2 separate regions of the Homo sapiens genome follow, and region 2 is linked to region 1. The links come from fine-mapping of genetic effects on gene expression. A gene starts in region 1. The other region holds a variant in brackets. All regions are shown on one strand. Distances are between the middles of the regions. Region 1 holds the start of SNX20 (sorting nexin 20). Region 2 overlaps CYLD (CYLD lysine 63 deubiquitinase).

Region 1 (15,441 bases):
TGCCGGGACCGCAGCACCCGCTCCTGTCCCGTGGCCCCGCAGCCCCGCAGCCCCGCAGCCCCGCAGCGCCGGCTCCAGGGCTGGCCAGGCTTACCTGGGACAGGGCAGGACCGGGGCTTCCTGCGGGGCTGGACGGCCCTGGCTGTGTGCCCTAGCCAGTGTGCCTCTCTTTCTGGGCCACGTTTCAACCAGGAGGGAATCGGGGAGTCCTCGGAACAACCCGCTTCCCAACACATACACATACACACACACACACACCACACACCACACACACCGCTTCCCAGCACACACGCGCACACACACACACCACACACACACCGCTTCGCAACACACACACACGCCCTGCTTCCCCCCCACACGCAAACATGTTTCCCAATACACACACACAGCCCTCGCTTCCCCCCACACACAAACATGCTTCCCAATACACACACAGCCCTCGCTTCCCCCAACACACATACCTTGCTTCCCAACACTCACATACACACACACACACGCCCTGCTTCCCCCCACCACAAACATGCTTCCCGATACACATACACCCCCTACTTCCAACACACACACCCTGCTTCCCAACACTCACACACACACCACTTCCCAACACACACACACCCTGCTTTCCCAACACATACACCCCACACACACCGCTTCCCAACACACACGTGCACACACACACACACCCCACACACACACCACTTTCCAACACAAACACACACTACACTCCCTGCTTTCCCAACACACACACACCCCACACACACTGCTTCCCAACACACACGTGCACATACACACACCCCACACACACACCACTTCCCAACACACACACACCACACCCCACACACACCACTTCCCAACACACACACCGCTTCCCAACACACACAAACATGCTTCCCAATATACACACACCCCACTTCCCAACACACACACATCGCTTCCCAACACACACATCGCTTCCCAACACACGCCTCACTTCCCAACACACACACACACACACACGCACACACAGCCAAAACTAGGAAAACTTTTCCAGAGTGTGACAGGTTACATGTTAGGTAAGAGTGGACTGGTCATTTAAGGTTCTTTTTTTTCATTTTCCTTTCAGTTTTTCCGTTTATGTTGAATGGAGTTTATTTCTCAGTTTAGTACTAATAGGGTTTGAGTACCTTTCTAGCACTGCCTAGATTACTTGGCTCTGAAACTATCTAATTAGCTTTAATAGCATTGTTTTTGTTTCCATTAAATATATTTTATTTTACATTCTTCTGTTCTCCGGAGCAAATGACACCGGTTTTCCATTTAACATGTTAATGTAAATGTTCCTTTTGAAACTCATATTTGGTTGTTTTAAAAAATGTGAAGTCAATTTTTAAAAATAACGAAAATAACTGGCATCTAGAAAGTGTTTACCATGTGCTAGTCTTTACAGACAGTAACTCAGTTACTTCCACCTCTAGGGTATTGACTATTATTGCCTCTAACTTATAGATGCAGAAACTGAGGTACACATTTGAACTTTGATCTCACGCCCACCAAGGGAGAAGGAGGAGGCAGGAGATTCCCCTAAGAGGTGCAGAGAGCAGCAGTAGGATCCTCCAGGCAGACTCGCTCACTTACACCCACCCACTCACTGGCATGGTGAAGATGGGGAAACTGAGTCCCACAGAGAGGAAGGTACTCAAAAAACAGTGGCCCCCTCTGAGACCTGAAGCCCGGGCTCCTCAGGACTTCTCACTCCTGCCAGGGGCCTCCCCAGCCTCGAGATGCCCCCTTTCCTCTGGCACCAGAGATGGGGATTTGCCCCAGGCCTCTGGCACAGATGAATGCTCTAACCACTACCCCATACCGCTTTCAAGTAAATACCTGTGCAGGTGGTGCACAGTCAGCCAAGGTTGGAAAATGCTGCATTAGAAGGACTGAATCTACCCTAGAAAATTCATTCTGGGCAGCGCACAGAACCATCTACAAGGATGTTCACCACCATCTTGCCTACAGCAGTGAGAAGCTAGAAACCTCCCTAATGCCCAGTAACAGAAAATTAATTAAGAAAACTGACAGAACATCTGAACCTAGAACACTTAACCCGACCCATCTTCTCTCAGCCCCACTATCCAATCTGGGAGCAAATTTTTCAGCTTGGCCTTCAAATATTTCCAAGCTGCAGCCCATTTTTGCCATATGCACCATTACCACCTGGGTCCACATCTCCATCATCTCTCACCTGGGTGATAGCAGGAGTTCCTGGCCATTCTCCACGCCTCCATCTACAGCCCTTCTTCAATCCAGCAGCCAGAGTGAGTCTGTTGGTTTTGCTGTTGTTGTCGTTGTTGCTGTTTTAAGTCAAATTCTATCACTCCTCTGCTGAAACTCTTCTGTTGATGGCTCCCATCCCAAAGTAAAAGCCAAGGTCCTTACAATTGCTGTTTGGCCTCTGGCACCCTCTCTGCCCACCTCTTACACTCTCATCTTACTCACTCTGCTCCAGCTACACTGGCCTCCTGGCTGTTCCTCAAATATGCCAAACCTGCAGTTACACTCAGGCCTTTGCCTTTGCTGTGCCTGGAATGCTCTTTCTTTAGAAATCTACCTGGCTCCCTCCTTCCTCTCCTTTGGGTCTTTGCTTCCATATGACTTTCTCGGCAAGGCCTTCCCTAACTATTCGGTGTACAGCTGCAACACCCTCCAATCCCTTCTCTCCTGCTTTATTTTGTATTTTTCTCCATAGCGCTTATCTGCACACAACACATTATGTATTCTACTTATTTATTGTCTTTGTTGTTGGTCTCTCACCCAAGACAGCATGAGCTCCAAGGGAACAGGGAATTTTTGCTTTGTCCCTTGCCTTCTCCCAAGGCCTAGAACAGGACCTGGCATGCAATAAATCTTTGTTGAGTGAATATACTAAAAATAATGCTGTGGTTCTAATAACCAATGAAAATAAATGAATCACTGTACCCCCACGAGAACTGCAGCCTCACAGACATAATGTTGGGTGAAACAGGCTGAGTGCAAGAGCGTGCATACGGAATGGTATCCTTTCTATAAAGTTCAAAAGCAGGCAAAACTGCATTACAGGTAGGAGCCAAGATAGAGGCTACCACTGGGGAGAAAGTTGGAGGTAGTGACTAGGGGAGGAGTGAAGGGGACTTCTGGGGTGCCAGTAATCTCCTATTTTTACTCTGAATAGTGGTTGCATTGATGCAAATACATTGTGAAACTGACCAAGTTAAACACATGATATTTATATTTTCCTTTATGCTTGTCATATTTCAATAGATATTTATTTTTTAAAGATGCTATAAGTATGTTTATCAGATAGAAAGCTGCCTAGAATATATAAGGCTAAATTTATAAAGTAGACTCTTTTTTGAACGAGGATGCCAAGATGATTCAGGGGGAAAAAAGTGGTCTTTTTAACAAATGGTGCTGGGAAAACTAGATGTCCACATGCAAAAGAACTGAATTTGGATTCCTCCTTCAGGCCTTATACAAAAATTAACCCAAAATGGATCAAAGTCCCAAATGCAAGATTTAAAATATAAAAATCTTAGAAGAAAACATAGGTGAAAATCTTTGTGACCTTGGATGAAGCAATGATTTCTCAGATTTGACACCTAAAGCACAAACAACCAAAGAAAAAAATAGATAAGTTGGACTTTATCAAAATTCCAAGCTTTTGTGCTTTGAAAGACATGATCAAGAAAGTAAAAAGACAACCAACGGAATGGGAGAAAATAGTCACGACTCATATCCAGAATATATAAAGGACTCCTGAAACTCAATAACAAACAACTTTTTAAATGAGCAAAGGATTTGAAAATGTTCAGAGAACGTATGTAAGTAGCCAACAAGCACATGAAAAGACGCTCAACATCATTAATTGTTAGGGAAATGTGAATCAAAGCCACCATAAGATACCACTTTACACTCACAAAGGTGCCCTTAGTCCAAAGGACAGAAAACAAGTGCTGGAAATAATGTGGAGAAACTGGAAGCCTCATACATTGGTGGTTAGAGCGTAAAGTGGTGAAGCCACTGTGGAAAATAGTTTGTGGGTTCTTCATAAAGTTAAACATGGTGTTACCATATGATCCAGCAATTCTACTCCTAGGTATACTCAACAGAATTGAAGCATATATGCACACAAATGCTTGTACACAAATGTTCATAGCAACATTATTCATAAGAGGAAAAAGTGGAAGCAAACTAAATGTCCCTCAGCTGATGAATGGATAAAGAAAATGTGATCTATCTGTGCAATGGAATATTATTCAGCTGTGAAAAAAACAAAGTACTGATAAATGCTACAACATAAATGAACCTTGAAAACATTATGCTAAGTGAAAGAAGCCAGTCACAAAATGACATCTATTGTGTAAGTCCGTTTACATGCAATGTCCGGAATAGGCAAACCCATGAAGACAGAAAGTAGATTTGTTGGTTGCCAGGAACTGAGAGGAGGGAGGAATGAGGAGTGACTGCTAGTGGGCATGAGGTTTGGTTTTTGTTTTGTTTTGTTTTGTTTTGTTTTTGCATGATGAAAATATTCCGGAATTAGATCATGGTGATGGTTACACAACCTTGTGAATGGACTAAAAACCAGTGAATTACACACCTTAAAAGGGTGAGTTTTATGGTATGTGAATTATATCTCAATGAAAAACAGTTGGGCTGCCAAATGCTTTGTGTAGAAAGAATATAAGGCTAAATTTAAAGAGTAGGTTGTTTTTTAACAAGGATGCCAAGATAATTCAAAGGGGAAAAATGATCTCTTTAACACATGGTGCTGGGAAAACTAGATATCCACGTGCAAAAGAAATGAATTTGGACTACTACCTCATACTTTATACAAAAATTCTGTAATAGATATGTGTGAATATATGCATTGAAACATCTAAAAGACAAGTTAGGATCGGATTTTAACTGGACTTTTAAAATTCTTCTGTGTTAACCTGTATTTCCTAATAAGCATAATTTACTTGTTTAATAATAATTTTTTAAAACTTTCCAATGAGTTAAGGGATATTGATTAAAAACTCCCTGTGTGCAGGGCCCTCTGCCGAGACAGGCAATTGGGATGCCCTGGAGACATTTCTGTCCTTGAGTGCTCTGACATGGGCACCGTGCAGGAAGTGCTCAGAAGAGGCGGAGGGAAAATGCTTCCAGAATCCCCCGGGCCTCAGAGGAGAGAAATCCTTGGATTGTGTCATTCAAAATTCTTCCAGGCCGGGAAGCTGCCTGTGCCTGAGCACTTCCCCCAGGAGCGAGGACTGCCCCCATCAGCAGGCCTGGATAGTAGGAGCTCAGCCCAGGACCGACGGCGGCTGCTGCTGCTGACAGTGGTGGTAACCCGGCCTCATAGTGGGCTGCAGTCTCCACGCTGGTGGTCCTCTGCTCCAAGCAGCCCGCCCACTCACCAAAGTCCAAACACTTCCACAAGCTGGCCCAAATGGATGAAGACAGGAATGGCTTTCCCTCCCCACATCTCTGCACCCCTAGCTTCACCAACTTCCCGCAGCTCTCAGTACTCCCACCTGTGAGCTTCTGCTCACTCTGTGCCCCAGGCAGAGGCAACAGGTGGCAACTGCAAGGACTCTGGCCCCAGCGAACTTGGATTTGAATTCCAGCCCTGCTCCTTAGCGGCTGTATGCTCTTGGCCAGTCATTTCATTTCTCTTGACCTCAGTCTCCCTCACAGTTAAGTGAGGATGACAGTCCACTTAGATCTTGTCATGAGGGATGCATACACTAGGACTCGGTGCCTGGTAAACAGTGAGCACACCACAGTGTGAATATGTTATTGAACACTTGCCATATGCCACGCCGTGTACTCTCACAACACCTCTATGGAATAGGTTCCATTCCTCATCCCCATCTTTGACAGGAAGAAACGGAGGTTTCAAGAGGATCATGAATTTCCTAAGATGACCCAGCTATGGAATGGTGGGACTATGAGTCAAGTCCACGTCCTTCTCTACCTGCTTTTATCTGGACCTTCCATGCCCACCTCCTGCAAGGAAGCTCTCCAGACCCCACAGTCCCTGTGGGCTCTCCCAGTCCTCTCAGCTGCAAAGATCAGCCTGCCTGTTCTCCTGTTGGCCATCAGCCGAGACGGTCCAACACTGTTGGCCCAAGTTCCATGTGTCCGTCCTGTGTATCACCAGTCTCTGAGGGTTCAAGGTATCCCTTCCTTGTCCCTTCCTTGTTGCTGGACCTCAGCCTCTGGCCCAGTGCTTGGCCAAGTCTGTTTTCAGAGTGACTTTTTTTTTTTTTCCGAGGTGGAGTCTCACTCTGTTGCCTAGGCTGGAGTGCAGTGGCGCCATCTCAGCTCACTGCAACCTCCGCCCCCTGGGCTCAAGCGATTGTCCTGTCTCAGCCTCCCAGGTAGCTGGGACTACAGGCATATGCCATCATGCCCAGCTAATTTTTGTATTTTTAGTAGAGACAAGGTTTCAGCATGTTAGCCAGGTTGGTCTCAAACCCTTGACCTCAGGTGATCTGCCTGCCTTAGCCTCCCAGGCTAGGATTACAGGCGTAAGCCACTGCGCCCTATCCATGGGTGACTTACTGACAGAGGGACAATGCTTGAAAGAAGGACACATTGGAGCAGGCAGCTCTCCACAGAGCAGCCTCCAGCCTGGGAACCTGACGTGCCTGCATCTCTTGGGCAGCCTCTGAGGTTGCCCCATTCCTACCTCAAGACCAGACCCAGCATTCTGTCACTTCCCCACCTCAGGTCCTAACCCAATTCCAAGCTCATCAGTACATTGGGCAGGAAGATCAGACACCTGAAAACACAATCCAGCTCCCCTGCCTAAGCCTCCTCCTGAGACCCCGTGCTGTGCCTCCTCTCTCTCCTTCCCTTCCGCCTTATTGTTTCTAGAATCACCCCTCTGTTCTCAAACCCTGCCATTCTAGCCCCAAGCTTACAAACCCCACTTCAGCAAAATAAAATGTTCCATTGGCTGAGGGTGTTGTCTTTGAAAATCAGTTTCTCACTCCTCCATTATTAATTAACTCACAGAAGACCATATCATTCTTCTTTTCCAATGTGTGGACACAAGTGCCAACTTCATCTGCATGGTCAGAAGTGCCGGGTTGGAACAGAAGAGCCAGGGCTGGATTTTTAGCATTACTGCTGCCTTTTTTTTTTTTTTTTGAGGTAGAGTCTCACTCTGTCGCCCAGGCTGGAGTGCAGTGGTATGATCTCAGCTCACTGCAACCTCTACCTCCTGGGTTCAAGCAATTCTCCTGTCTCAGCCTCCTGAGCAGCTGGGACTACAGGCATGCATCATCATGCCCAGCTAATTTTTGCATTTTTAGTAGAGACCGGGTTTCACCATGTTGGCCAGGATGGTCTCGATCACCTGACCTCGTGATCCGCCACCGTGCCCGGCCCACTGCTGCCCTTTTTTAGGTCCTCTGTGCAAGGCACATACCTTAAAATGATTTACAATGGACCTGATGGCCCTTAACCCCACCCAAACTGCTCATCAGCACCTTTGCCCAAACAGATGTCCCAAGAATGGGAGGTGTATGTTCTCCTGATCAGAAAAGTTGGATTTTCTCCTAATCTTAGCCATGAATCTTTACACAATCAGCAGTTCTGACAGTCCTGAGGTTGACAAAGACCAGGAAGTTCAGTAATGGTGACTGAAGCTCCCGCGGCCTGCAATGTAGAAATAAATGGGCCTGTACCCAGCCCCACCCTGCCATGTCTCAATATAACCACAGCGGTGCCCCACAGTGCATTCTGTCTGCAACCCCAGTTTTTAAATCCTGCAATATTAAGAACCTTTGAAATTTAATAAAAAGCTATACAGGCACATCCAGCTGCAGAAAAACAAGATTGACAAGATCAAATTTTGTGTCACCTGCGAAAAACACCTGGCCAGTTGTGGTTTGCTCTACCAGCGCTGAGAGGCACACCTGGGACCGATACACTCTTGTTGAATTTCTCAAAGAAGGCGTACCAGTGTTGCAGTTCCAAGCATGTCAGGCATCCAGAGCGGTAGTGAGGGGTAGCTTCTAGTACTCAATTGTTTGCTCAATGTAGAATGCTTTGGTGGTAAAAGGACATCATTTAATTTCATGTTGCAATTAGGGAAGCCAAAAATCAGACAGGGTGGTGGCCTGCCCAGAATCACACAATGAGTCAGGGCTGAGCTGCAGCCACAGCCTCGGTGACCACTTCTCTGCATTCACCCCGCCATTCATTCATGCACACAATGACTTACTGAGCACCCACTATGTGGCAGGCACTGTGCTGGGTGCTAGAGACACAGATAATGATACAGACAAAGTCCCTGCCATTGTGGCATTTGAGACAGGAACTGCACAAGTATACAAATAAGCAAAACAAGGACAGATCTCGACAGAGGGGTCAGAAGAAGGCTGCATGGAGGAGCGAAAGTGAAGCTGCTGCTTCATGAGATGAGATGAGATGATGAGATGAGATGAGATGAGATGAGATGAGATGAGATGAGATGAGATGAGATGAGATAAGCCAGAGATGGAAAAACCAAGCGGAGGGTATTTCCAGCTGAAGGAACTGCGAAAACAAAGGCACGTTTGAGCAACAGAGAGCAGTCTGGGTTGGCTGGTGTGTGGTAGGTGACACTGGGAGTGGACCGAGTGACAAACGGTAAGCGGCAGATCATGGAAGCCTCAGCAGAGAGTTCGGATTTACTCTGAATGTGGTGGGAGGCCACTGAAGGGTCCAAATAAGATGGAGAGGTGCTCTGATTTTGAATTCTAGGAGAGGCATCAGATTCTGAGACACTACTAGTATTTCCCCTTTCTCACTCCTGGTGCCTCGTGGTGACCCTCCTCGCCATCTGGCTTCAGCGCTGCAATGGAGGATGCCCACTCCTGTGTCCCCCGCATGACGATGGGACCTTGTCTGCCTGTTATGAACTGAGTATGTGGCCTCCAAGTTCATATAGTTCATATATTGAATTCCTAATGAAAAAGGTGAGGCCTTTAAGAGGTAATTAGGCCATGAGGTTAGAGATCCCTGAGCACTCTCTAGCCCTCATTCTGCCATGGGAGGATAGAACAAGAAGGCAGCCATCTGCAAACCAGGAATCAAACCCTCCCCATATACTGAATCTGTTAACACGTTGATCTTGGCCTTCCCAGCCTCCAAAACTGTGGGAAAGAGATGTCTGTTGTTTAGGCCGCCCAGTCTGCGGTGTGTTGCTACAGCAGCCCAAGCTAAGACACTACCTATGCCTTCTGCCTCCACCACAGAGAACTCTGGCTGCAGAGAAAAAGCAACATCCAACAGGTGGCCATGCGTGGCATCTTCCGGTCACTCTGGCTCAGCTGGGTCCTACCGACATAGGCCAGGCCCCTCTCCATCAGGGGGTTTCCAAGAAACGTCTCCTTTCCCCATAAGAGGAAGTGGCGGCAACCACACATTTTTCCCCTGTGGTTGCCTTCTGCAGCATGAGAGGCTCACAGGGCTGCAGAGAAAGGCTTAGAGTCCACCCTGGTGTCTTGCAGATTCCAGGCCTGGGCAGAGAGTAGGCGAGAAAACTGGAAAGTTACGGGACACAACCCAGGGAGGAGAGGGCATTCCAGCCTCACTGTATGCAGGGAGCCACACCACCAGGCCCTCTGCTGGGCAGGGGGAGGCGGAGATGACCGACCTATGGCCCCTGCACTTACGGGGTGCCCCAGCTAGCAGGCCAGAGGCACACCACTCATGGCACTCCTCGTGAGCTCTGCCCAGAGACAGACCTTTGCAGATGTGGAGGTTCTTAATGACAGTGACGGCACTGCAGAGAGGTGGAATTGCAGGGCCATGTCAATAAGCAAGGTCAATAGGTAAACAGGGACATTATAGAGCCTCCAATGAAAAAGACAAGCAGCAACGGTTTTAGAATAGTAAGAACTGCCAGCACTTGTACAGCTCGGAACAGTGTTGTTCTAAGTGTTTGGCTCATCTGAACTCCTCTTGAGGTTCACAAGCCTATGAGCTTGTTGCAGAAGCAAATACAGGAGAAACCTTCATGCCCTCCAAGGATGACACTGGCTCAAGGCGGAATGTTTTGGCACTAGGAGGACTTCATTAAATTTCATGTTGCAATTAGGAAAGTTGAAATTCAACCATATCAAAGGACTAATATGGTTCTTTAAAGTTGACAACTTCTATTCGTCACAAAACTCCATTAAGAGAGTACAAAATGCAAACTGCAGGATGGAAAAGGATATTGAGAAGCACATAAACCCAAATGAATACATAAAGAACACCTACAAACCATTAAAAATAATCAAGTCAATAATGAGCAATGACCTTGAACAGACACTTCATTGGAGAAGGTATAAGGATGGCAAATAAGCCCATGAAAAGATGCTCAACATCATTAGTCCTTAGGGAAATGCAACTTAAAACCTTGATGAGAGACCACTGCACATTAATGCAGTGGTACACTGAAAAACACTGACCAAACCAGACACAGTGGCTCACATTGGTAATCTCAGTACTTTGGGAGCCCAAGGCAGGAGGATTGCTTGGGGCCAGGAGTTCAAGACCAGCCTGGGCAACATAGTGGCCATGATGGTCTATCCCTCCAGAAACAAAAAAAATTTATTAGCCAAGCATGGTGACGTAACTGTAGTCTTAGCCACTCAGGAGGCTGAGGTGGGAGGATCATTTGAGCCCAGGAGTTCTAGGTTGCAGTCAGCTATGATGGTACCATTGCACTCCAGCCTGGGTGATAGAGCAAGACCCCATCTTTAAAATAATTATAATAATGACCATATCAAGTGCAGGTAAGAAGGTGGAGCACCTGGAATTCTCATATACTGCTGGTGGGAATACAAAATGGCACAGCCACTGTGGAAAATATTTGGCGTAATCTAGCACAGTTGAAGCTATCTATACTCTGAGACCCAGCAATTTCACCTCAGATAAGTACATGGACTTGGATAAATGTGTAAGAATATCATCAGTGGCATTGATCATGATGGCCACCCTAGGAACAACCCAAGTGTGCATCAAAAGACAAAACAAAAAATGACAAATGGTGATGTATTTAAATAATGAAGCAACAGAAAACCAAACACAGCATGTTCTCACTCATAAGTGGGAGTTGAACAGTGAGAACACATGGACACAGGGAGGGGAACATCACACGCTGGGGCCTGTCAGGGGTGGGGGCCAGGGGGAAGGAGAGCATTAAGACAAATACCTAATGCATGCAGGGCTTAAAACCTAGATGATGGGTTGATAGGTACAGCAAACCACCACGGCACATATATACCTATGTAACAAACCTGCAGGTTCTACACTGGTATCCCAGAACTTAAAGTAAAATAAATAATAATAATAATGTAGCAACACAACAATGGAAATGAAAAAAAGTATCTACACAGAAATGCATCAGTGAATCTTATACCCATAAATGTTGCATGAAAGAAGCAAGGCACTGGAGAATACACACAGTATGCATGGTTCAATTTATATAAGATTCACAGATGAGTAAAATGAAACTGAATTGTTTGGGGATCTCATAGGTGGTAAATTTCTAAGGAAAAGCCAAGAAGTAACCCCCATCTGAATCAGGACTGTGACTGCCTCTAATAGGGAGGAAGGGAATCATGGCTCAAAAAAAAACACATGGCAAACTTCTGGGCGAGCCAGCAAAGTTCTATTTTTTTTTTTTTTGTCTGATTTCTGTTTCTTGCCTTCAAGGCCACAAAGATGGGTGGGCATGAATCACACCACACTGCCCTGGGGTTTCGCTTCCCTGGGACTTTCTGTTGGTGGTGATGGATACAGCTTTGCTCAGAGAAAAGGCACCAGATGGAACTGTAATTCTACCCCACTGCTCTTCTATGTCAGTCACTGGCTCTGTGTCCCACCAGCTCTGTGATCCAAGCCTCGGTTTTCCCATCTGTTCAAGGGGCATGACGGCCCCCATCATGCCTAGCTCATAGAGTAGAATAATGAATGTTAAAGGGCTCTGGGAGCTAATGCCTGAATTCCAGAGATCAACGGGGACTCGAAGGACAGCCAGACCTCTGCAAGGCGGCAGGGAAAGTGAGGCTGAGCTAAATCCCACAGGGCTGGCCCCACACCGCCTTGCCCTTCCCTGCGCTACCCGGAAGAAGAGGTGGGTACAGCTGGCAGGCTGGCAGTTGAGTTCAATATACCATGTTTCACCAGCCAATGGGCTGGGGCGATCAGAAGCAGGTCACACAGCCTGTTTCCTGTTTTCAAACGGGGAACTTAGAAAGTGGCAGCCCCTCGGCTTGTCGCCGGAGCTGAGAACCAAGAGCTCGAAGGGGCCATATGACACTCCTCCCGGACCCCTGGACACACACAGCCCTGGAGACTGGAGGTCAGTATTTGATCCCAAGCTCAGCTGTCCTCTGCCTGCTGTGGCCTGAGTCCCCTTCTCCTGGGGCCCTGCCTGGCACCTGCTGGGGGCAGGGTGGGAGGGGGAAGAGTTAGTGACAGCCACTGTGTCTGGAGCTCTCCTTAGCACACTGAGGCAGAGGAAGGGACAGCTCCTGGACCTTCCATCACCTCCATTCCTTTTGAAATGCTAGGCGCTTGTACAACCCATCTTGGGCCTGGAGAATAAGTCACCACACCTGTGTTTCTCAAAAGAACAGTGTCAGGGAACCCCTGCCTCAGCACAGCCTTAGAGGACTCATGGAAAATGCAGAATCCAGGCCTGTTCAATGGCACCTTCCTATGTTAGCAGCCAGGAAACCTGCTCTTGGACAAGCCCCTGGGATCCCACCCCCACCCCACCAGGGGATTCTTACACACACTGGGTTGGGAGCCCCTGGCTTTGGCAAGGCTTCTCAGGTGAGCGTCCAGTTGTTGGAGGGTACCCACCCTTTCCCCAAGAGAGGCAGCCACACATCCAACATCCTGGGATCTCTGTCTCCCAGCGTGGGCCATGTGCTTTATTTCACCCCCTAGAGGCTCATCCCCCATGAAAAGTCCTCCGCAGGCCCTCAGAAAGATAGTGTGGCCTCTGTGTGCCCAGCAGAAGAAGGACTGGACTTGGCAGTCAGCTCTTGGAGAGGGGGTGGTTAGGACACCTGGGGACAGGAGGAGGAGAATGACTGTCTGTGCACACACGGCTGGAAGGCAGAGGAGGCTGGGAAGCTGCTCTGTCCCCTGGGCCAACTACAGGCCCCCAGGCCAACAGCAACAACACTTTTAGTATTTTGTTATAAAGTCAAGAAATCTTTGCTACAGAGGGTGAGGAGAGGGAAGGAAAGGGCCATGGAACCGTCTATGTGGCTATCCCCAGAGAGCTTTTAGAGTGACAGGATTGCTTTCCCATTTCACAGATGAGGAAACTGAGGCCTGGAGAGGGATGGGAAGCTACCCAAGGCCCCATGGATACACCAGTGCACAACTCTTTCCTTCCCCCTCCTCTTTAAATGGGTGACTCCCAATGAAACCTGTAAGAGACAACCATAAGGGAGCTGACTGTGGCTGCTGAATTTGATTTTATTCTAAGGCCTGGTTTTATAATCAGCTTTCTCAGTCTTTACTGGAGTGTCAAGCCGAGGCATCATTTCTAGGGTCTTACAGGGTCTCTGGGCCAATAGTGCCCTGCTTCTGACCTGGAGCCAGCTGCCTGGTCATGAAAGCAGATCTGCAAAGGCTGGGGCCCCTGAGGCCAAGGCCACTCGCCATCACCCATTTTACAGAAGTGCTGAGCATAGGAGTGCCCTGGGCCCCCAAGAATCCCAGCCACCAAGAATCACGTAAACCATCCACTGTCTCACTTAGGCACCAGTCAGAATGTAGGGAACCCACCCCTAGTCATCCATCATCTTATCAACAGGACGGGGCTTGTAGCCACATTTATCAGGTAGGGAAACTGAAGCCTAGAGATATTAAAGCACTTGCTTAAGGACACACGGTTGGTCAGGATGGAAGGCGATGTCTCCTGACTCCCTGACAGGCACAAGAGACAAGCGAGAGGTGCCCGTGACGGCATGCTCAAGAACGTGCAGCCCTGGGCCAGCCAGGCCCCTGCTCCGTGCCTCTGTTTGCCCATCTGTAAAAGGTGAGGTTGGATCGAGGGTCCCTGAGGGCCGCCCACTGGATGGCTGTGCAGAGCCAAACGGAGAAGGCCCCAGGGTTCCTTTCACCCGACACAGCAAGCACTTCCCCCTGAAGTGCAGGCTCCAGGCCCCAGCTGACCTCCCCTCTCCCAGGCCAGCGGCTCTCACCCCTGGAGCAAGGGACAGGCGCTGGCTGTGCTCAGGGACATGCATGACTCCCGCCCCCATCTGTGCTCAGGGGGTGCCAGGGAGGCACTGGCTCTATCTTTCTCTAGGCCGTAGTCAGCCCAGGGGTTCAGACCAAGAGCCCAGAATCCAACAGATCAGAGTTCAAGTCCCAGCTCTACCTCTATGTTCCACTGGCAGCTTCCTCAGGTCATTTGCACCTTCCTTGTCTTGAATTTCCATGCCTAACCAGTCAGTATACCAGCTACTCCCTCCAGCCGATCTAATGTTTTAATTGTCCCTTTCTCTAAGTTGTCTCAAACATTTGTAATTCTATTCCAATCCACCTTAATTTAGTCATTTATTTCACAAATATTTCTGGAAACATCTAGCACTTAACAGACACTAAAAGCGGGGGTACTACACAGTCCCTGGGATGGACAGGGCCCTGAGCTGAGGCTTCAGAGTCTGCCTGACTGAATCCTCACCCCAGCCTTGTGAACGTGGGTTCTGTTATTATCCCCAATTTATAGGAAACAGAAGCACAGAGAAGTTGAGTCACTTGCCAGCTACCAGGTCATCCCTTCCACTTATCCGGGTCACAGACAGAGTTATTATGTAAACCAGATCCCAGCTGCCTGTTCTCCCTCCCTGAGTAAGGTGGAGAGAATTCTGAAGTCAGCCCAGCCTGGGTCTGTATCCTGCCCACCACTCACCAGCTCCTCATCTTTGGCAACTCTAAGTCTCAGTTCCCTTATCATAAAAGGGAGATGTAAACAGTCCTGAGTGCAGACAGTGTTCAGGTTAGTGCAAGAGTGTGTGCTGGGTGTGAAGTGCACAGCCAGCACGTCACAAGCACTGGAGACAAATTCAGCTTTGCTTGTTGCGCACACTCACCAGCTGCGTGACTTTAGACCTCAGTTTTCTCATCTGTTATGTGGTGGTAATGATAGACTTTTGTGAGCATTAAACTAGATTAGGGGCTATGGAGAACCTAGATGGGTATGAAGTGGGTATAATAAGCTATCAGTTAATTTTGCTGATAGATAGATTATTGATTGATTGATCGATAGAAGATTCATACCAGTATCTACCTGCTCTGAACACTGACCTTTCTTTTTTTCTTTTTGAGATGGTCTTGTTCTGTCACCCAGACTGGAGTGCAGTGGCATCATCATAGCTCACTGCAGCCTCAGTCTCTTGGGCTTAAGGGATCCTCCTGTCTCAGCCTCCCAAG
Region 2 (16,627 bases), 71 kb before region 1:
AGAGACACGAAGTGTGCACATGCTATTGGAAAAATGGCATTGACAGACTTGCCCAAAGCAGAATTGCCACAAACCTTCAATTAATAAAAAACACATATCTGTGAAGCACAATAAAGAAAAGCGCTATAAAATTAGGTATGCCTGTATTTGATTTCGTAAGACAAGTGAAATTACATTTAGCCATGTTACTCTGGGAAAAACAATATTAGCATAGAATTGGTTATCCCTGCAAGAATACATAAATAATGAAAGAAAATTTGTTTTTCAAGTGATTCCCCCATAGCTATCCAGCAAGTTAACATTATAAAATGAGCATAACTCCTAGAATTTGCTTAGGACACAGTGTCTCAAGCTCAGTTCTACTAAGGTTCTGAACCAGATAATTCTGTGTTGTGTAGGGCTGCCCTGTGCACTGTAGGAAGTTTAGAAGCATCACTGGTCTCCATGCATTAGAGGCCAGTAGTACTCTCACCTCAGATGTGGCAATCAAAAATCTCCAGACACTGCCAAATGTCCCCAGGAGACAAAAGCATCCCAGGCTGAGAACTACGGGCTTAGACCTAAAAAATGCACTAGTTACACAGTAAAAATAGTAGCATATTTTAAACAATAACAAGTATATCTAGAAAGAATTAAGAAAGCCAAAAGTTGGTCCTTTGAAAAAATGAAAGTCAGAAACCACTGGTAAGATTGGTGAAGAATATAAGAAAGCACAAATGATTAACATTTTGGATGAAAATAGGAACACAAGGGCAGATGCTGCTGAGGTTGAACAGAAAATTAAGAGGCTTTTATAAACAACATTATGCCCAAAGCTTTGAAAATGAATTAAATGGATACATTCATAAAAAATAAAACTTGCAAAAGACAATCAAAAACAAACAAATGTTAAAGGATATTTCATCAGTAGCTAAACATTTCCACAAAAAGAAGCTTTGTCAAATAGTCAAGGAATAGGTAATTCTAATCTCACATAAACTCTTTCAAATAACAAAATAAAAGAAACCTTTCCCAGGTACTTTATGAGACAAGCACGACTTTGATTCCAAAACCAGACAAGGACAGCTAAAAGGGAAAAAGTATAGGCCAATATCTCTTATAAACAGAGATTTTAAAAACAGGATGCAAATACTAGCAAACTGGACCAAGCAAAGTATGAATCATGAGGAGGTTGGGTTTACATCATGGATGTAAGGTTGATTCAATATAAGAAAATTAGCAGATTAAAAGAAAATAGGATTATCTCAATAGAGAAAAAGGGGTTGATAAAATTCAACATCAATTCATGATAAAACTGTTAGAAAACTAGGAACAGTAGGTAACTTCTCTAACCTGATAAATGACAGATACAACAATAAAACTCTATAGCAAACATCACATTTAATAATGAAATGTTGAAAGCATTTTCTTTAAGATCAGAAAAAAAGGCCAAGATGCCTTCCATCACTACTTCTATTCAATATTGTATTTAGAGGTCCTAGCTAGGACAGTAAGAAACCATTTTTAAAAATAAAAGAATTCAGAAGAGGCAAAACTGTTATTATGTGCAAACTATAATGACTGAATATTTTATAAGTAATCCATGGATTGTGAATAAGATATTTTAGTAAGTCTGTTTGTAAGAAAAATCAGCACACGAAAGTCAATTGAAAATGACTTCATTCCCACTAGGATGGCTAGAATAAAAAAGTCAGATAATAACAAGTATTGACAAGGACATGAAGAAACCAAAACGCTTACACACTGCTAGTAGGAATGTAAAATGGTGTGGCTGCTTTGGGAAACAGTCTGGCAGTTCCACAAATGGTTAAACATAGAGTTATCATATGACTCAGCAATTCCACTCCTAGATATAAACCCAAGAGAAACAAAAGCATATGTCCACACAACAACTTGTACATGCATGTTTGTAGCAGCATTATTCATTTTAGCCAAAAGGTGAAAAAAAAACCTAAATATCTATCTACTGATTAATAAACAACATGTGATGTGTCCATACAATGGAATATTATTCTGCCTTAAGAAGGACGGAAATTCTGGCACATGCTACAACATGGAGGAACCTTGAAAACATTATGCTAAGTGAAAAAAGTAAATCACAAAAGACCACATATAATGTGATTCCATTTAAATGAAATGTCCAGAAAAGGCAAATATGCAGAGACAGAAGTAGACTGGTAGTTGCTTAGGACTAAACAAGGATGAAGGGTTTGGGAGATGATCACTAAGGGGTGCAGCGTTTCTTTTAGAGGTGATGAAAATGTTCTAAAATTATCTTGACAATTGCACATGTCTGTAAATGCACTAAAATGCACTGATTTGTACACTCTGAGTGAATTATAAACTAGATCTCAGTAAAGCTGTTTTCTAAAAAAAAAGTCAATTGTATTTCTACATCAGCATGACACTGTTAGAAAATATGCTTTATAATGCATCAAAATGCAAGTAAGCTCTTCATGGAGAAAATTATAAAATTTTACCAAAAGGAAATTAAATAAATGAAAGGATACACAAGGTTTATATATTAGAAGTTTTAATATCATAGAAATGTCAATTCTCCTCCAATTGTTCTACAGATTAATTGCAATTCCAAAATCCTAACAGAACTCTCTTATAGTATTTGAGAAGCTGATAGTTAAACTTACAATGAAGCCCAAAGGCTAACAATAGCCAAGACATTCATTAAGAAAACAAACAATGGAAATGTACTCTCACAGCTACCAAGACTTCTAAAGCTATGGATAGGCTTTAGTGTAGGGAAATGACAGGGCTCAGAAAGATCCACACGTGTACATCTGGAAACTTGATTTATACGCAGCAAGCATGGAAGGTCAAATTGGATATCTGTACCCATATTTCATATCCTGTTCAAAACCAAATCTAAGTGAATAACACACTTAAATGTAAAAACGCAAAACTATCAAGAAGACTACTATTTTGAAAACAGTATAGAACAGGAAAATTCAAAAGAACAGTGAGAGGAGACTAGTGTTAATAATATTAAAACACATAAAGAATCACACGTGGAAGCAGAGTGTGGAAAGATGAATAAAGGGGGCTTGGGGTGGCGGGGGGTGGATGATGGGAGGTTGCTTGGTGGGTATAATGTGCATTGCTCCAGTGATGGATGTGCTGAAGGCCCTGACCTCACCACAATGCAATACAGTAGTGTAGCACAATTACACTTGTACCCCATGAATATATACAATTTTTTAAAAATCATTAAGAACAATGTGGTATTGAAACGTGGGAAGACAGAATAGAAAGTCCAGAAATATACCACGCTACACGTGGAAATTTAGTATGATGAAAGTGGCCTCTCAAACCAGTAAAGAGGGACTTTTTAATAAATGATACTAAGACAACAGGGTATCTTCTACCTGTGGGCAAAAATAAAAACTAGATTGGATTTATATTTCACATCATATACCACATAAAACAGAAATGGGTCAAAGATATAGATAGATAGATAGATAGATAGATAGATATAGAGATATGTACTAAAACCACAGAGTACTAGAAGAAAACACAGGGAAATTCCTTTATAACCTTACAGTAACTCAAAATCCAGAATCTATTAAAACTAAAAGAATACAACAGCATAAAAATTTTATAAATCCTGCAAGGCAAAAAGCACCAAAGTCAAAAACATCACACCAAGTGAAATGCACCAGCTCCAAAGGACATATGTATGATTCCACTAATATGAGATACCCAGAGTAAGCAAAGTCATAAGGACAGAGAGCAGAGAACAGAGATGAGCAGAGGCTGGAGGGAAAGAGGAACCGGCAGCTATCTCTTCATGAGTATAGAGTTTCTATTTGGGATAATGAACAAGATTTCTGGAAATAGATAGTGGTGATGGTTGCACAACTGTAAACATACTTACACTGAATTATACACTTAAAAATTGTTAAAATGGTACATCCTGTTAGGTATATTTTACCACAATAAAAACAAATGAGGGTGACCAGAAAAATAAGCAATTTTAAAAAAAGACAAATGACAAATGAGGGTGGAAGAGTGGGCAACATTTGCATCTCGCATCACAGAAGAGTTTGCCACCCTAACACATGAAGAAATCAGTGAGAAAAAAGGCCAATAACCTAACCCAATTTAAAAATAGGCAACAGATGCAAACAGTTCACAGAAAGAAAAATTGCCCTTAATCATATGCAAAAATGTTCAACATCACTCAGAGAAATGCAAATTTCTATTTGCAAATGTATTATATACACTGAAATATATTTTTTATCTATCAGATTGGGAAAAAAGTTAGTAACACACTCTCATGGGAAAGCTATAAGTTCCCCCTTGTATTCTACTGGCAGGAATATAAATTGTTATATCTACGACTGAAGGCAATTAACAATATCCAGAACAATACCAACGCATACGCCCTTTCATCAAGCAACTCCACTTCTGGGAATATATATATCCTCCAGATATGCTAGCACATGTGGGAAACAGACATGTACAGGTTACGGTAACATTGTGTGCAATATCAAAAAGTCAGAAACAACCCAAATGTCCATTGATAGGAAACTGGTTAAATAAATTATGAAATTTTTTTCCGTACAATGGAAAATTATACACTATAAAAAACAAGAACCTCTGTTTGCAAATATACAAAGAGTTCTAACATATAAAATTAAGAGAATAAAGCAAACAGCAGAATAGTGTATCTACTACACTTCTTGAATTAAAAGGGAAGGGGGAATAAGAATATTTATATTGTATAAAGAAACACTGGAAAGATATATAAGAAATTCATAAAAACTGTGACTAGTGAGAAACGAAGGATGGAGTAAGCAGGCAACTGAGGCAGAGGGGATAAAAATGGAAATGAGATATTTTATTGTACTTTTTAATTTTGATTTGAGATACATGAATGATTTCTTCTTAAAATTGTTTTAATAACTTGATAGAGGTTTCTAATTCAAGGGTATATATATATTAGTTAGAACCCAAATAAATCCATATGTATGTCATTATATGTGTGACTTCTATCTGAAATGAAAAAGAAAACCCTAAATACTTATCTCTAGTTAATTAGATGCACACTGAAGTATTTAGGAGGAAGTGAACTGGTATCTGCAACTTAATGTGAAATGCACAAGAAAACGTGACGGATAAGTACGTGAATAGAGAGGTGGACAGATACATATAAAGCAAGTAAGATGTTGATTGTAGGATCTAGATGATATGCATAAGGATGCTCAATATAAAATTTTCAGTTTTTCTGTTTAAAATGTCATAACAAAACATTAAAAGATGTTTTATTAAAATTCTAAAACTAGAGAACTCATGAATCAATAAATGAGCAACTCAACAGAAAAACAGGCAAAAAATACGTGTTTAATAGAAGACACAAATGTTGTATAAACATATAAAAGGCTGTTCAATCCTACTTGTAATCAGGGAACTACAAACTTTTAAACCACCTTGAGATACCATTTCTCAGCTGTCAGGCTGGCAAAAATTTTAATCAGTACCAAGTGTGGAAAAGGAGGTGGAAACAACCTAAAACCCAAGCGTCCATTAATATTACAATGGGCACCAAACTGTGGGATAGTCACATGACGAAATATACTATGAAGCAGTGAGAGTGAACAAACTACTAATGCCCTCATCCACAGAAAAGAATCTCAAAATACATTTTAAGTAAATGATGCAAGTAATTTAAAAATCAGTAAGATTTTAACTACATTAAGTTCAAAAGCAGGCTAAACAGTATATTGTTTAGCTACAGAGATATAATTAAATTATAAAAAGCAAGGAAATAATTAATGAAAAAATCAGAATAATGGTCACCTCTAGGGAGAGATTGCAATTATAATGAAAACAAGGTATTGCAGGTGGTTTTCAAGGTACTTCTAATGTTCTGTTTCTTAACCTAGATGGTCAGTTTCATGAGTGTTCATTATTATTCTTAATATATGTTGTTATATATACTTTTGCAAATACATTCTACAGTAAAAAGTTTCTTTTTTGAGATGGAGTCTCGCTCTGTCACCCAGGTTGGAGTGCAATGGCACAATCTCAGCTCACTGCAACCTCCACCTCCCAGGTTCAAGCGATTCTCCTGGCCTCAGCCTCCTGAGTAGCTGGGACTACAGGTGACCGCCACCACGCCTGGCTAATTTTTGTATTTTTAGTAGAGACGGGGGGGTTCGCCATGTTGGCCAAGCTGGTCTCGAACTCCTGACCTCACGTGATCTGCCCACTTCGGCTTCCTAAAGTGCTGAGATTACAGGAATAAGCCACTGCACCCAGCCAAAAGTTTCTTAAATATGAAAATGATGAGCACATTGCCCATTTTTAAGGATTAAACATGAATTCGTATAATATTAACATAAACATTCAAATGAAATTGTTTAATAGCTAACTCAATTTTAACATGATCAAAACCAAGATCCTGACTTCCAACTCCCACTCCCCGACGCATGCTCTTCCTGTTGTCTTTCCCACCTGGGTAAATTGCCTCTCCAGCCTACCAGTTGCTCAGTCCAAACCTTGGAATCATCCTTGATTCTGTTCTCTCTCTCAAACCTCACACCCAACCCATCTGCAAATCTTGATGGGATCTTTACATTATATCCAAATCCTTCACTTACCATCCTCTTCATACCACCCCAGTCCCAGCCACCACCGTCTCTCACGTGGATAACTACAACAGTCTCCTTCCTGGTCTCCCTGTTTCTGTCCTCTGTCTAGTTTATTCTTAACAGGCAGCCAGAGAGATCATTTAAAAATGCAAATTAGGGTGAGTTGTCCTTTGTTCAAAACCCACCTATAGCTCCCCACCTCTGTCACTATGAAAGCCAAGAATCCACACAACAGCCCACTGAGCACTACCTGTTCCAGCTCCCACTGCGGCTCCTACAACTTTCTCCCTCACTCCATCTGCCGCAGCCACAGTCAACTCTTCACATTGCTCAAACTGGCCACGCTGGCTGCGGCCTTGGGCTCTCCCTCGGAATCCACATGTTCTCTCCCAAACTTCCTTCATGTCAACAGCTCAAATGTCACCTTATTAGAAGGTTTATCAGAACTACCCTACATGAAATCGAAAAATCCCGCCCTACAACCTAGTGCTCCCTTCCTCCTCACTGTGTTTATCATTTTTCATCTTATTATCATGTAATTGATCATACACATTACATATTTACTGTCTGTCTCCACTCACTAGAATGAAAACTCCACACGAGAAGAATTTTTACCAGTTTTGCTTCCTACTATATCCCCAACATCTAGGTAAGGGCTTAATAATATTTGAATGAAGGAATGGCCTTTTATTAAACTGTTTTGTAAACCATAAGCATTTATTATAATATTTAAAAGTACTTTAATTCATAAAATAAATTGTATTATCTCCATTAACAATCATGAAAAACTAGGCCGGGCGCAGTGGCTCACGCCTGTAGTCCCAGCACTTTGGGAGGCCGAGGCGGGTGGATCATGAGGTCAGGAGATTGAGACCATCCTGGCTAACACGATGAAACCCCATCTCTACTAAAGATACAAAACATTAGCCGGGCGTGGTGGCGGGCGCCTGTGGTCCCAGCTACTCGGGAGGCTGAGGCAGGAGAATGGCGTGGACCCAGGAGTCGGAGCTTGCAGTGAGCAGAGACCACGCCACTGCACTCCACCCTGGGCGACAAAGCGAGACCCCGTCTCAAAAAAAAAAATCATGAAAAACTAAATTAAATTTTGCCAAGTAAAATATCAAGCACATATATGCTTTTTCCTGAATGTAAATCATTTGTTCCCAAAGGGAAGCAAAATAAAAAATAGCTAGGAATTCAATTTGCAATAAATTAAAAATTGATTTTACAAACATCAAGTAAAGCAAAGTATGTCACACTTTGAAGAAGTAAAATTGAAATAAAGCTATCATTTGAATCCTATACCTCCAACTAAATTAATGTGCTGTTGCTGTAAAGCTAAAAACTAAAGCAGAAAGCATGCCCTAACTTGAAAAACAAGCATTGATTACTTGCTTCAGCAACAGGAAAACAGGAAGCGCAAACAGTGCACGCTAAAAGGAACCTTAAGAATCATCTAGTATTAGCCCTTTCATTTTTACAACAAAAGAAACTGAGGACCTGAAATGACCTGAAAAAAAAACAATTCAGTTTGCTTATTCAATTGTGATCCTTGCTATAGCAAAATTCAGCTTTTATAGAATTAGAGACAAAATATATCTCCATGGAAACAATATTCCCAAGTATACATGTGAGACTGAGAAGTATGGTTTTCTATGCAGGTCTTCACATCCTAAATATACAGATAGGATTTGGGGTGGGGAGGTACTGAAAAGAGCACAGCTTTCTAATCAGACAGGTGTGGATTTAAATTCTGGCTCTACTATTTACTTTGATTTTGGTAATTGTTGTCCATCCGAGCCCCAGCTTTTTATCAGCGAAATGGGGATCATTAAGACTTACATTATAAGTTTGTTAAGAATGTAAAAAAGTATTAAGTCGTCTAACTCAGGGCCTGGTACATTCCTGGCTACAGTCTGCCTGCAGGCCTTCTGACATTTTAATCAGACTTGCATAATGCTCAATGAGAATCACCATCTCTGACTGCCACTGTTGGCTTTATTGCACTAGCCTGTATCACAGAGAGTTCCACTAACAGCAGGGGGATGAAACTGTTGATGCTGTTATCAACAGAAATTGTCAATTACCTGACAGCAGACACTAGGTGCTACTTGTTAGAGGCAAAATAAAAGATTGCTTGATTTTTCTTCTAAATGTAAAGTTGAGCAATCTATTTCTGACTAGAGTCCTGATCCCTGATCAATCACACCTTCTCAAAACTAAAAGGGATCTCACAGGTTATCCAGCAAGAATCTTCTCCACAGTACATTAGATTAGATTAGATGACCAATGTCTGTGTAAAGCCTTCTAGTTTAAACCAAGCTCTCACTCAGGTAGCAGTTTATTACATTTTCCGATCCTTCTAATTAACAGGAAGGGTTTTTCCCCCACTAAGAATGGACAGGTGATGAAAAAGTGAATGAAAACATATTAATGCCACCCTTATACTCATATACGTCTGGAAACAAAAATCTTAATTATTTTCATTTGAGGGTAAAGGATATCCTATTTAATAACAATTCCATAATATAAAAGTCAAGTTCTAAAAATATATCTTGAAGCTTACATTTATGTACTCAAAATATATATTAGAAAGCTTGCCTTATAGAGGGATCA[A/G]AGACTTAAATCTAAGACCTGAAACCATAAAGATTCTAGAGGATAACATTGGAAAAATCCTTCTAGACATTGGCTTAAGCAAAGACTTCATGACCAAGAACCCGAAAGCAAATGCAACAAAAATGATAAATAGATGAGACTTAATTAAACTAAAAGGCTTCTACACAGCAAAAGAAATAATCAGTAGAGTGGGAGAAAATCTTCACAATCTATACATCCTACAAAGAACTAATATATAGAATCTACAAAGAACTCAAACAAATCAGCAAGAAAAAAACAATCCCATCAAAAAATGGGCTAAGGACATTAGCCCACTTTTAGACAATTATCAAAAGAAGATATACAAATAGCCAACAAGCATATGGGAAAATGCTCAGCATCATCAATTATCAGGGAAATGCAAATCGAAACCACAATGTGATACCACCTCACTCTTGCAAGAATGGCCATAATCAAAAAATCAAAAAAGAATAGATGTTGGCATGGATGTGGTGAAAAGGGAACATTTTTACACTGTTGGTGGAAATATAAACTAGTACAACCACTGTGGAAAACAGTGTGGGGATTCCTTAAAGATAAAAGTAGCTCTAGCGTTTGATCCAGCAATCCCACTACTAGGAGTCTACCCAAGGAAAAAAAGTGATTATAGGAAAAAGATACTTGCACATGCACGTTTACAGCAGCACAATCTGCAATTGCAAAAATATGGAACCAGCCCAAATGCCCATCAATGAACAAGTCGATAAAGAAAATGTAGTACACATATGTGTGTATATACACACATATGTACACGTGTGTATATACACACACATATGTACACGTGTGTATATACACACACATATGTACACGTGTGTATATACACACATATGTACACGTGTGTATATATACACATGTGTATATGTGTGTATATATGTATGTATATATGTGTGTATATGTATACATATCTATATGTATATATACATATATATGTATATATACATATATATGTATATATACATATATATGTATATATACATATATATGTATATATGTATACATATATGTGTGTATATGTATATATGTGTGTATATATACATATGTGTGTATATATGTATACATATATGTGTGTATATGTATATATGCGTATATATATATACATATGTGTGTGTGTATATATATACATACACCATGGAATACTACTCAGCCGTAAAAAGGAATGAAATAATGGCATTCACAGCAACCTGGATGGAATTGGAGGCTATTATTCTAAGAGAAGTATAATAACTCAGGAATGGAAAGCCAAACACTGTATGTTCTCACTTATATGTAGGAGCTAAGCTATGAGGATTCAAAGGTGTAAGAATAATACATTGGACTTTGGGGACTCAGGGGGAAAGAATGGGGGGTGGCAAGGGGTAAAAGACTACACATGGGGTACGGAGTATACTTCTCGGGTGACGGGTGCACCAAAATCTCAGAAATCACCACGAAAGAACTTATCCATGTAACCAAACACCACCTGTTCCCCCAAAACATATTGATATAAAAAAATAAAAAATTAAAAAATAAAGTTTGCCTTATAAATGTATAAAACAAAGAAAACATACCTGGGATGATATCATTGATGTGCAATAGAATTGTACTTTCAACACACGCAAAACTACAAAGCTGCACTCCATCAAATCTTCCATCCCAGTTGCCAATAGGGTTATCCTAGAAATTAAATAATAAACATTAAAATCCTCCTCAATGAAATGTAAATGTGGAAGTCTGTATTTTCCATAAAGAATCCTCCAAAATATTTTACATTGGTAAATGTTAACAATTTTACCTAAAAGAAAGAAAGAATACATTAGGAATAGTTGCCATAGTAATAAGGTTTTGCTTTTTTCATTGGTTTGTTCATTTTTTTCTTTAGGGAAATGAGATTCAAGAATAACCAAGTGATAGTAAACCCCCAGATAAGCAAAGAATTGAAAGTGTTTTTTTCATACTTTACTGAACAATAAATACTAATCTGTAGGATAACACCCATTTGAGGTTTAAAAAGACAGTATTTTGCACAGGAAGTTTCATTAATAATATATTATTTCACCCAGAAACCTGCCTCTAATTAGCCCTAAGTTCTTCATATTCCCTGAGCATTTAAATAGTCCATCTGAACTTCTGTATGCCTTTCTGTACATAAAAAGTCTATTTTCTAATTGTTCTTTTGTCATTTATGAGCATATAGGAATCTTCTCCAAGATGGAGATGTTTATATTTAATTATCTGATATTCTAATATAGTGCCAACTAGCACTGTGCTGTACAGGGAACTACATCAGTAGACGGGCCAGTCAGACAACTGCCCTGGGCACCAATGTGCATGGCATGCTAAAATGTCCCTGGAAATAAAGGATGAATAGAAGGAAAAGGAGATAAAGAAAGAAGTTCTAGCATTTGCCAGAACTTTCCTCTTAAGGACTATAATAGAAGTGTTTGGAATGAATATCTGCACAAGTCAGCTATGGGACAGATGGAGGCAAGGAGAGAAGCTGGCAGGGCAAATCTCTAGGCAGCTTGCCTCAGGTAAACAAGCTGACCCCAGACCGCCATCTGAAAAAGGCAAGGCCTAAACCCTAAACAGCTTCTGCCAAGTTTGAGGCCCAAGGTAAAGAGCCTGATGCAAGGGGAGACCAACCCCAATGACCAGTGGCCCTCTTTCTCCAATCTTCCCTCCATGAAGGCCACAATTCTCCTTGAAATAAAGACTGAATTACTATTTAAAGAATATTGGTTAAAAGGAGTGCTTTACTGTCAGCTATCCTGAGGGGCATACATGTTTTACTCTGGTTCTAACTTTTCACATGTTAAGAGTAAACGTTTGTTTAGTAACTAACCAATGAGTATCAGATAGAATTTCCTGGAATTTTCAAGCACAGGAAACCATTACACTAGAACATTACCTTACCAACCAAAAAGTATACCTGAGCAGATAAAAATGATGACTAAAAGCATCCCCATTGTGAGTATAAGAGATTACTACTCACATCGCCTCCTAACTCATTCTAGTGTTCAGTAATTCCATATGAATTTCCTTCTTTATACATAACAAAGTCTTGCCCATATGTTCAATATATGATAAAAATGGTCTCAGCCTTTCTCTTCTTATTCTTTCAGTGCCACAGGTATAATCCAATGAACCACACTGGAATGGATCCATTATTAAAAAGTATGATTGTAAGGAAACATTAAAAATAAGTGACACAAACAAAAGGTCAAATGTTGTATGATTCCACTCTTATGAGGAGCCTAGAACCGGCAAATTCAGACAGAGAAATCAGAAGAAATTGTGGTTAGCAGAGGTTGGGGAAAGTGGGCAGTTACTGTTAAAACAGGCACAGAGTTTCGGTTTGGGATGATGAAAAAGTTCTGGAGATGAACAGGTGACAGTACAACAATGTGAATACACTTAATGCCACTGTATGCACACTTAAAAATGCTTAAGTGATAAATTTTGTTATGTATATTTTACCACAATTAAAAAAGGTTTTTAAAATGAATGAAATCCTATGAGATATTCTGATTGTCTATTCCTCAAAATCAATGTGGTTTTCCTCTACTCAGGTATTTTCTATAAATGATTATTATACTAATTATTAAAATCAGATCAGCCATTAAATTGTGTAGAATATCACAAAAAAATGGAGTACCCCAAAAAACTGTTTCAAAATAAAGAAAAATAGGACTTCAAGTAATATAATTGTGTTTTGTCTTGTTTTGTTTTGTCTACTGGTCAGCTACAATAAGGCAAATTTAAAGATAGAGAACATTATTCTAGTTTATTCAAATGGGAAAAAAAAGTAAATGTAATCTGTATCTAGACCCCTGTTCTATTTCAATGCTCCTTTACCAAAGATAAATTAGAACATGTTCTTTAAAGTACTCCAAATTAGATCATGTTAAATATTCAAAGTGTTCAATTTGCAAGTAAATTGGTCCTAAAACTAATACATATATATATAAACTATACATATATATGTGTGTATATATATGTGTGTATATATATGTTTATATATATATATACATATATATATAAACTAATATATATATCACAAAGATATTTAATCCAAAATTTTCTTACCATGTCCACACCAACAAAATATCCTAAGCTTTCTTTTCCTGGCAAAACATCACAGAATATAACTGTTCCAGATTCTATTGTTTCTCCAACCTTCAAAGAAACTCTGGAGTTTATTTCCAAAGGAGGAAGTTCGACCTGCATTGTGTCCCCAGGACCTGCGTAATCACTTTCCAATGCAGTGTCATCATCTTCTATGAGTTCTAGCTTGTCCAATGCAACAAACACGCCACAATCTTCATCACACTGAAAAAGCTGTTTCCCTTGGTACACCCCGTCAGTGAAACCTTGACCACGACCTTCTTCCTAGTTTTTAAGAGAGAAGGGAAAGAAATAGATATAGAAAGACGATCCATAGGAAAAGGGGTTCACTCTAGGGATTTCAGGAAAATCACTCTGGAAAATTTCTAAATGATACATATAATAAGAAATACAATTATTAGCAGTTTCTGTTGGATTTAGAGTGTTTTAAAAAATAAGAAGTTGTATCTGATGCTGAAATAATATTATCTGATAATTTCAATTCATAACTCTATCATGAGAAAGCTAGGCTGAATTCCACGTTGTGATTCTAACATTAATTTGGTTATAAAAAGAAAATGTTACTTTAAAATAGCAGTAATGTTAGCTCCATTCATTAAGCACTTATTGTCAGTCACTGTGCTTAAATCCTGCATCAATGTACCACAAAAACACTACAAGTCATGTACTATTAACACCATTGTACAGGTAAGGATGCAGAATGAGAGAAGTTAAGTAGCTTTGTTAAGTAACCTGGCAACCCAGCTAGTAAATGGCTTAACTGGGATTCAAATTCCTAATTGTTTACAATCACTGCTTTTAAAAAAAATTAAATCAAGAAGCAAAGAAGACATGCAATTCTATTGGCAAGAGTGTCAAAATGTAATTGGCATTTCAGTTCTTGTGAATGAATATTAAGTTTGGAAACATATCACAGCATTCTTGGGTCTCCTTCCGGTAGAAATAAATTCTAAGGATTTTCACATATATTATCGGGGACAATTATAAGCAAGTTTAAATTTCTGCAACTTTTTTTTCAAAAATCTTATATCTAAATTGTTATTTAATAACATACATTAAGAAGAACTAAGAAACCTATAGATGATAACGCAAGGTAATTAACAATTTTTTATGTAACTATTTACAACTGGTAGCGTTCATGTTTAATACAGGCAATGTTAAAATTTCTAAAATATATATGTCTGCAATAGCCAGGTGAATCTCTTTGTATGTTCCTACCATAGTACATAGTTTTTTAAGTTTCGACATCATCTTTACATCTTCGCAATTCATCATTAAAAAGTAAACAAAAGAAATTAAATCAAGAAGCAAAGAAGGCATACAATTCTATTTGCAAGAATGTCAAAATATAATTGACATTTAAGTTCTCAAGAATGAATATTAAGCTTGGAAACATATCACAGAGTTCTTGGGTCTCTTTCCAACAGAAATAAACGCCAAGGTGATTTTCACACATATTATCAGTGACAACTATAAGCAAGTTTTGGATTATGGATTCAACCACAACATGGATTCATCAGCAAGGATGATGAATATTAAAAATTACAGAAGACTCTTGGGAAAATTTATTTCGTATTTAAGGAGAAAAATATGTATGTGCATACAAATACACAGACACACATGAACACAAACAAACACACTACTAAAATGGTTTATCAAACTTACCAGCAATTCAACTCCAAAGAATATTCCGGAGACTGTCCTCTCTGCTAACAGGGGTCCTCTGAAGCGTACAACTCCAGGAAATTTTTCTTCCCCAGATCTCAGCTGTACTTTCACAGGACAGCCCACGTCTATTTGGAGGCCTTTACTTAGTCTGTTTCTGTTTTTAAACAGGCTGAACCTCTCCTCACAATTGGTAATTGCCAAAAGTAACTCTGTGAACTTTTCATTTATCTCTACAACATCCTTTTCATCAACAAAGAGAACTGCATGAGGTTGCTCTAGAATTTTTAATCCAATCTGATTTTTCTTGCCTTTTGCAGAAGGAATCCTTGAATGCCCCACAGAACGATCTTGAATATACTGTCCTATACTTCCCTTCGGTACTTTAAGGAGCTTTTGTGTTTGTTTGTCTGTAACGCTGCATTCTTGAAGAAGCAAGTAAAAAATCCGCTCTTCCCAGTAGGGTGAAGTGACTTTTTCTTGGCTCCATAAGCCTGAACTCATTGTGATATTAACTTCAAAATACTAATTCAAAAAAGGGAAACTACTAATAACTTTGTCATAAAACCGCAAAAGATAAATTCAGTGGCAGTCCCAAAGCATGTTTTCAGCAACGTGGTGTCCATGCTGTAAAAAGAAAGGAAATCAAAATGCCTAGTGAAAAAGCAAAAATAAACTTTAGACTTCATTCTACATGACTGAAAATTAAGACTGAAGACTTTTAAAATTTTCATTTGACCAGTAAACACATACACACAAATGAAATATTTTCAAAAAATATCTAAAAGGGCTAAAAGACATACATACTGTATTACTTTTATCTACTGTAACTGTGCATATTTAATTAATGAAATCCAATTGTAAAGTACTTTCAAAGACAACACAATGTTTGCTTCCAAGACACTGAAATTTATAAAATCAGATTCTAGTAAAAACTTTTAAAGATTACCCTTATATACATATTCTAACTTTTTTTAATTTATTTTTATTTATTTGTTTTGAGACAGGGTCTCACTCTTGTTGCCCATGCTGGACTGCAGTGGCACAATCACAGTTCACTGTGGCCAAGACCTTCCAGGCTCAAGTGATCCTCCTACCTCAGCCTCCCGAGTAACTGGTATTATAGACGCATATCACCACACACAGCTAAGCTTTCTATTTTTTGTAGAGACAGGGTCTCACTATGTTGCCTAAGCTGGTCTTGAACTCCTGGGCTCAAACAATCCTCCTGTCTTGGCCTCCCAACGCACTGGGATTACAGTCGTAAGCCACCAGGCCTGTCCCATATTCTGACACTAATAAACTTTTAAAAGTAGCGTTTCGGGCTGAGCTGTGTGGCTCATGCCTATAAATGATAGCTATGATATGGCCATATTGTGATAATGGAACATTTTACCTCTGACTCAACTTCATTTCATATATTTTTTCTGAAGATGGGCAATGTTCATCACATTAATCATAGTTATCTGATTTCTCAAATCGCAAATATCAGATATTATAATATGACTATATTAAAAATATTTTAAAAATCAATTTTGTAGCATCAAAACTTGTACTACATAGCAAGGGAATATCATGATATAACTGCATTATAA

The links.
Region 2: its variant is fine-mapped to the expression of SNX20 in whole blood (TOPMed, PIP above 0.99).

Annotation. Positions count from the first base shown.
Region 1 is chr16:50,678,092-50,693,532 of GRCh38, reverse strand. SNX20 (sorting nexin 20) reads left to right here and starts at 12,221. Exons shown (of 4, transcript NM_182854.4): 1 at 12,221-12,343. RefSeq lists a silencer at 1-207 and an enhancer at 9,168-9,517.
Region 2 is chr16:50,748,608-50,765,234 of GRCh38, reverse strand. CYLD (CYLD lysine 63 deubiquitinase) reads right to left here. Exons shown (of 19, transcript NM_001378743.1): 3 at 15,033-15,659; 4 at 13,329-13,631; 5 at 10,811-10,916. The coding sequence starts at 15,536. Among named protein-coding and RNA genes, the nearest start is that of CYLD-AS1, 14 kb to the right of the region's middle. The variant A/G (reference allele first, on the strand shown) is at 9,225.